2 linked regions of the Homo sapiens genome follow. The protein of the gene in region 1 interacts with the protein of each later gene in a biochemical or structural test. Each region holds a gene or a part of one and is shown on either strand. Other genes may lie near its edges.

Evidence for each region.
Region 2: the proteins of TNN (region 1) and TLR4 form a complex in vitro, tested with the Homo sapiens proteins (one study listed by IntAct).

Annotation. Positions count from the first base shown.
Region 1 is NC_000001.11:175,081,055-175,084,875, reverse strand, and holds part of TNN (tenascin-N precursor), read right to left. Parts: intron 1,127-3,821; coding exon 941-1,126; intron 1-940. UniProt on the Homo sapiens protein: Extracellular matrix protein that seems to be a ligand for ITGA8:ITGB1, ITGAV:ITGB1 and ITGA4:ITGB1. Involved in neurite outgrowth and cell migration in hippocampal explants.
Region 2 is NC_000009.12:117,717,821-117,721,641, reverse strand, and holds part of TLR4 (toll-like receptor 4 isoform A precursor), read right to left. Parts: 3' UTR 1-3,821.

The sequences.
Region 1 (3,821 bases):
GGACCACAGGCATGAGCCATTATGCCCAGCCCTTTTTTTAAAAAAAAGTTATTTCTCTGTAGAAGCAACTAGAATTATTTTTCCTTGGGCACAAATATTCAGACTGTGGTGGTAAAATGCAGACAAACAGAAGCTTGTGTGAGGCACACACCCTCATTCTGCACTCCACAAACACTAAGAACCCCAAAATGTCCTGTCAAGACAGAACTCAAGGAGTGGACAGCAGAACAAGGCTCCAGGAGGGAATTTACCATGAAGCTAATAAGCCCCACACTTTCACGGGCCCATTCCAAGGCCTTGTACCTGATTGGGTATTCATGATTGCGTATTACTTTTCTTAAAAAAGAGCCCTGGAATTGTACAGACTTCAAGCACTGCCAAACTTGATCCATCCCTGCAGCCTTGTTTCCTTAGCAGCCATTTGAGCTCTAGCTCTTGGCAGCATTAGCTCAGAAATCAGAGACAGAGAGCCACCCCTGCTCACTGCACCCTGCCCCCCTCCACATCCCCCAACACAACCCCTTCCATGCATCATGCTCAACAAACCAATCTCAATCTCTCTCTCTCTCTTTCTGTTCCCTCCTGTCCCCAACACCCAAATACTAAAGTTCCTCCAAAAGGAATATCTATACACCATCAAATCCATTCTGAGACACAGACAGGGTCTTCAAGAGAGTTTGCTGACTTGGAGAACATCTCACAAATATAATCTGTTAACAAGGTGCCCTGGGATCGAGCTCTGGAATGCTGGGGCAGAGTCTACAGGCCTCCCAGGTGGGCTTATGTCTGGCAGATTCAAGGGTCAGATTCAAGTGTGATTCCTAAGGCCCCTGGGCTGTCTGTGCACACTTGAGCAGTGCAGATGCCAGTGCCCTCTGCACACACTATCCCCACCTCTGCATCCACAGCATACATCTCACATTCCAGTGATGGCTCTTACCAGTGATGTCATATCGGCTCTTGGGGTCACTGCTCTTGGGCACAGTGACCTCAGCTACCTCCTGTCCTGTCATGGGGCCATATCGCAGCTTGTAGTAGTCCACCTCAGTTGAGGGGTTTTCCCACTCCACGTCAAGGGAGTTCTCAGTCTCATCTGTCACCCAGGCAGTGCCAAGCACAGCAAGGTCTAGGGCAGGGGTGACGGAGGCAAGAGAAAGTGGTGAAGAGCAGAGGTTCCAAGGTTCTGTGACAGGCTGTTGGTTATCAGGTCAGCTCCCTTTCTTGACATCTCAAGAGCTGGCTTCAGCCCCAGGACACAGTTCTTAGCAGGTGTCTTTGAGCTACCAAAGTAGCAACTAAGCTGCTGGTTTTCACATATTCCATGGGCAGACTGTCTTTTGGGAAAGCCTCCACTTCCCCATCCCATCAGAGGCCATGTGGTCTTCCCTGTCCACACTGACTTTGGCCAAGCCCAAACTGTACCTCTCAGGTTGGCCACCCAAACCACTCAGTCCAGAGCTCTGACAGCTACAGCCCTGAACTAAAGGCCCACTCTTCAGCTGCAGAGCCCCTGCCCTCTAAGACGACCTCAGGATAAGCAGCTCAGGCACTTCCACGGAAAGTGGAGAGAATCTATTTCAAACTTTCTCAAGGACAACATTGGTAATCCAACAAGCTCCTTCCTCCATCTCCCAAATTGCAGCCCTTGCCTCTCAAATTCTCCTCTAAGGATGAACCCTAGGCAAAACTATAAAGTAGGTGAATTTTAACTTGGTCCATCTGAGTGTACTTCCTGCTATTTTTACCAATTTTAGCACTTCCATCTGGTACCTGGTATTCTCATGCTGCCCAATCTGTCTGTCCTGTGAAGGAAGAGAGTTATTGTATACATTTATTCATAGTAAAGTATTAACGGCTAAATGTTTACTCTTCTACTCAGAAAAAAAAAAAAACATGAAGTTACAGTGATTAATACAAAGGAATGGATCATTGCTACAGCTCTAAGGGGAGAACTTTTCTAGGGATGGGAGGACTAGGGTCTTTGAGAAGCACTTCAAATTCCAACAGCCATATCCCAGGCTGAGGGAGCCTGGCCTTCTAAGTTTTTGACAGGAAAGCCAAGGCCCTCCAATTCTCAGGCTTCCCCTCTTCATCAGTCACGCCCCCACCTTCACCTCCCTGGAGGTGTCTCCACCCAGGCCTACTGACCACTGACGGATGATGAAGGATCGAGAATTAGTGTCAGGCCAGGTGTGAACTCAGTGATCTCAAGGTCCCTGGGCTCTGAACGTCCCCGATTCAATCAGTTATGGATAAAGAGCCTCACAGAGCCTTTTCTCTGAAGCTTTTCCTCTCACCCACTGGCTTCCATCTGCCAGGTGCTGTTTTTAGACTCCCATTAAAGATGGAATTCCCTGAAGGCCAGGTCAAGAGGTGAGTAATAAATGTGACTTGAGGCTTATATAAGAGTTCCTACATGGTGTAAAAGAATTGGGAGGGAATCACAAATGAAAAAGCAAGGACTTAATGAGAATGTTCACGATTATGGTGGGGATGAGTACCTCTTGTCTTAGGCTCCCCTGAGGAGCAAATAAGAATGTGTTTAACCTGAATCAGATTAGAAAGAAAGAGAAACTTCACACTTGCAGAATTTTACAAATCCCGAGAGCAAGATGGATGAGGGGTTGCTAGGACTTTCAGAATAGGCATCTCTGTGCTGCACTGGGAGGCTTTGGACACAGTGCTAGCTGTACCAGAGGCAGCCACAGACAAAATGGGGAAAAAGAGAAAAGCAGACTCTGCCAGCCAGAATGGGCCTGGCTCCCACAGTGAGGACTTGGTGTCTCCTATTGAACATAAACCATTTCACAGGACATCAATGTCAGGTCACTCTGTGACCGCATAGATCAAGACAAAAACAAGACACTTCCATGATCAACTCTGAACACAGACAAAAACATGACCATTGTCCAAACCACACAAATAGCTGAACACCCACTCTCCTGACTACTATGAGTGATGGCCACTTCTGTTACAATCACCAACTTCAGCCTCTCAGAGGGGAGAGGCTCTCCCCACTTCTTGACAGCACCCAATCCCTGCTTCCTTACACCTTCCCCCAAATTACCTAACACAGGCCCAGATTCTCTAACCAGTCCTTTCTAACGCTGTCTTACTGAGATACCTCTATGGTCCCCCATAGTGTGCAGTCACCCATGCTAGAACAATCAAGACACCCAAGTTGTTCAACTACAGGGGTGCTCCTGGGGGTCTTTAGCTTGAGGGCACTGACAAAGGTAATCACATATGGTGACCTCATGATGGCCAAGTCTCTCACAGCCCTTTCCAACACTGACCCATCCCCACCTCCACCCTAGTCCCACCACCATAAAGGACAGGCAGCTTGATGTCTCTGCAAAGACAACTGCATGCCAAAGTTCCATCCATCTGTATCTTCCTAGATCTTTCCCTAGAAGTTTAGGGCAGGATGGAGGCAGTGCATTTTTAGCACCGAGAACAGTGCCTGACAAATGGTAAGTGCTCAATAAAAATGTACTGTGTGAAGGAATGAGTTAGTCATTCAACCAACTACGTTTCTCCAAATCCTTGAAGATCTAAGCTGCTTTAAGAATGTTCACGAGGAGACAAGAATGTTTAAAGAGTAAGCAGTGATGCTAATCCTTCTAAACATTTTGGTGGCATTTGCTGGTGCACAGGAGATTCTGTTTCTCCAGATCAAGCCTCCACCATCCTCCATCTTGTTCTGTACCCCAGGCTGTGATCTCTGTGAATTGAGTCTGCCTGTTTACCTGACCCTTTGGCTTCCAGGTTCAGCTAGCAGGAATCACCAGCAGATCAGAGGGCAGGAGACAGAATTCTTT
Region 2 (3,821 bases), on another chromosome or scaffold:
TAGATAATTAGTACCTAGATACACAGACACATAGATAGCAGAATGAAAGTCATTAAGTGATTCTTAAGCCAAGCATTTGTTTAAAAGTGAGAGTTTGGGACCTGCTCAACTTTGTCATCTTCATATATGGTTTCCATTTTAATCGTTGTATTGAAATAAAATCAGCTGTAGACTGCCTGGAATTCTTTGTCAAAATGAAGTTTGCAAAAAGAGGCTAGAAGAAGATAGAAAAGATGTAAGAGAGAGAGCAAGTGATTTGGAGACACAAGATCAAGGAACCGATCTTGGGATAGAAAATACTCTTCTCCAGTTCCATCCATGCTCTCACTTATGAGTGGAAACTAAATAATTTGTAGACATGGACATGGAGAATGAAATAACAGACATTGAGGACTCAGAAAGGTGGGAAGGGGTTAAGGGATGAGAAAGTACCTAATAGGTACAAAGTACACTGTTCAGTTGATGGTTACGCTAACAGCCCAGACTAAACCATTATGCAATATATTCATGTAACAAAACTGCATTTGCACTCTCTAAATCTATAAAAATTAAAATAAAATTTTCTAACCTTGAAGAGAGTCTTTGTTACCCATCTTAAAAAGAATGAAGTCAGAGTAGAGACATGAAGTTGTCTTTTTTTTAAATAGTTTTTTTAACTCTATATTTTTATATAGTGTCTCCTAGGGAATCCCACAAATAGAAAGAGTGTTTATTCCTTTCTGAGGAGGAGAACAGACCTCCCAGAGTCCAAAGGGAAAGACAAGGACAGTCCCAGGAAGAGGAAGGGTCATGCACTAGCATCTCACGGCCGAGCCCTAGGAAGACGGAGGGGCAAGGTCCTGGGGTGGCTGTGGATAGAGTCAGGCTGGGTTATTTCAGGTCAGTCCTGCCTTGCTTGGCCCATGGGAAATGGGGTGTTGTTAGTATGAGTCAAGAGCTCAAATTGGTAACTGGCTGGTTTTGATTTAATTACATAGTGAGATAGTTTCCTAGGAGCATACAACACAATCCTTTCTCCTAAACGTGAGTTTAATTTTCAACAAAACACTTCTCTCATAAACATCACGTCATTTCTAAACCTTTATTGCCATTCCCAGAACTGCTTGCAGCCTTTCAGAAACCCATTATTTTATAATTATAATCAAGACTATTAGGACAGGACAATTTGTGCCAAAAAGCGCATTTACACTCAGAATTGTCACTTAGCACTGTCACAGGAGGGATCATCTTTATTTCTGTAGAAATCAAGGAGAGTTGCAGACTCTGCCTTTTAAACTTTTAATTTCTAGATGGCATGGGAGTTACTGACCTTGTCTAAATTATTCTCCATTCACTCCACTAACCACCCCTGGCAGAGTAGCCCAGGACATCACAGCAAGCAATTATGTTATGGAAAGAATGCAGCCCCAAGAATCAGGCCAACCCAAGTTCATATCCTGATTCTGCTCCTTCCTATTGAACAATTCAGTCCTTTCATCTGTTTCTTCATCTGTGGAATGGCAAAGCTACAAATACCTGCATCAGAAGGTCATTTTAACAATTAAATGAAATAATATACAACTAAAACGGTGCCAGACATGCACCAAAAGCTTAGCAACTTAAAAAAAATACAGAAGGTGCGGCAAATGTTATTGTGATTAATATAAGCTGTGTGACCTAAGGCAAGTTACTCGTCCTCTCTGGGCATCTCTTTTCTCATTTCTAAAATGAGAAGAGTAGCCTTTAACTCACAAGGTAGCAGTAACGATCAGATGATCACGCATGGTGCTCAATATAGTTGGTTCCTTTTGATCGACCATTTACTCCACAGATTTTACTTTGAGTTGAAAAGTTCGGTGATCTCCATAAGGGCAGCCAGAGTGTGTGATCTTATTCCAACCATCTGGAAAGTCCTAAGCTTTTGGAACTTCCCCCATAACCTCTGTGTTTAATCACAAGTCTGTGATGCCCGTCAGGAAGTCAGACCAACTGTAGACATGATAGAGCAACCCTAGGCATGTTGTTCAAAGAAAGGCCATCATCTAGTGGGCCTGATTTGTTCACTGTTAAAAAATCTTTGATCACATAACTTAGATCACATTTTTCCTGGCTCTTACAGCTGTAATATAAATAAAAACAAGTAATAATAATAATACTTCTCTTTGTTTAATATCAGTCAAAATTATAATGGTGAGATAGGAAGTTTTATGCATTTTGTGAGAGCAGGGTGCTCTTGCCATAGAACAGTATTTAGAAGCCCTGCTTCTGCGGTGAAGTGGACTTAGATCCTAATCTCAGTGCTGCCACCAATGAGCAGGTGACAGTGGACACATGACAGAATGACTCCCAGACTCAGACTCCTCATTTGTAAATTGGAAATACTTTCGTATCTTTCTAATTCATTGATGTGACAAACTGAGATAGCACAAATAAAGCCCTTGCATAAAACAATTGATCAATTAAATGTAACTATTGTAACTATCAACATTATCATTTTAACCAAGTGAGGTCTGCCAACAAGGTATTATTACCTCCATTTCATGAATTAAGACCTGAGCCTCAAAGCACTTGAATGACTTGCCCACAATCACACAAGTAAATGGAGACACTGGCTTAGACTTTGGTTTTCACTCTCCCAGGGAGTTCACTGTCACATATTGTGTGAGTTCATTTAAGCTTCTCCAGGAGCCTGCTGATGATTTCTAAAAAGTTTATAGAGTCCAGAAGAAGACTGGGGTCTGACAATCCCGTGAGTAGAGAATGAATCAGAAAGAAATGTCTAATTTTAGTTACAGTCACTTCTGTGGTTCCACAGGCTGGAAAAATAGCAATTACTTTAGTGTTGTTACTGAGAAGACCTCCCAGTGCTTCTCCTAGTGCCCTCTTAATAAAGTCTTAGGGGAGTACTCACCCATAAGGACAGTGTCCCCGTATTGAACATAATACATGATTTTCAATCCTTAGAGCAACCTTACAAAGTCATAGTTCTATTCTTATTTTACATTGGAGCTAAGTAGACTCTCAGAGAAATGGAGCCCAAGGCACACAGTTGATAAGGAGTGAATTTGAGTTTTGGCTTTCTCCAAAAGCCACGCTACTCAAAACACCAGAAAAATGGAAAGCACTGTATTAACGCTCATTCTCGGTGTCTTTCTCTCCTCTTTTTATTCTATGTCCAGATTTTCTACTTATTATTGATTAACCCTATTGTTCACATATCCTTTGTTTGAAGCTCCTTCAAGTCCTTTATGGAAAGATAGGGTTATAAATAAATCATTTGGTATGTATAACATATATGCATATGTATTGGCTTAATGATTCATGGCTTCAACTGAGAAACCCTTGCTAGTGTCAACCACACAGAAAACTGCAGGAGTTTCACTTCCTGTTTTGCCAACTTTAAGCATGAAGCAATTGGGTGTGGAAGAAAGAAAGTGTCCTTGAGTGACCTGGAGGCCCAGGCTCAGGTTTTGTCACTTTCCTACTCTGTGGGCTATTGAAAAATTTACTTCATTGAACTTCAGCTTTCCCATCAATAAAATGGAAAAAGTTAATTATGATTTGCTACCTTACTCAGCTAATGAGATATTCAAATATATAGTTTTGTGAATATGTTTCAAGTTGTAAGGTATCACACAAATTTAAGGCATTACAATTGGCATTAATTTATCCTTATTCCACCCTTTATCCCTCTTAAATCCAGAGGATTTAAAGAGCTAAAAAGAGGCTGGCTGAGGCCTGACTTTACTCTTTCTTCTCCTTCTGTTCTATGCATATAATTTCTTTCCCTGCTTGTCCACCTCACCTGCCATTTCTAGAATTTCCATCTGGGAGAGGGAACT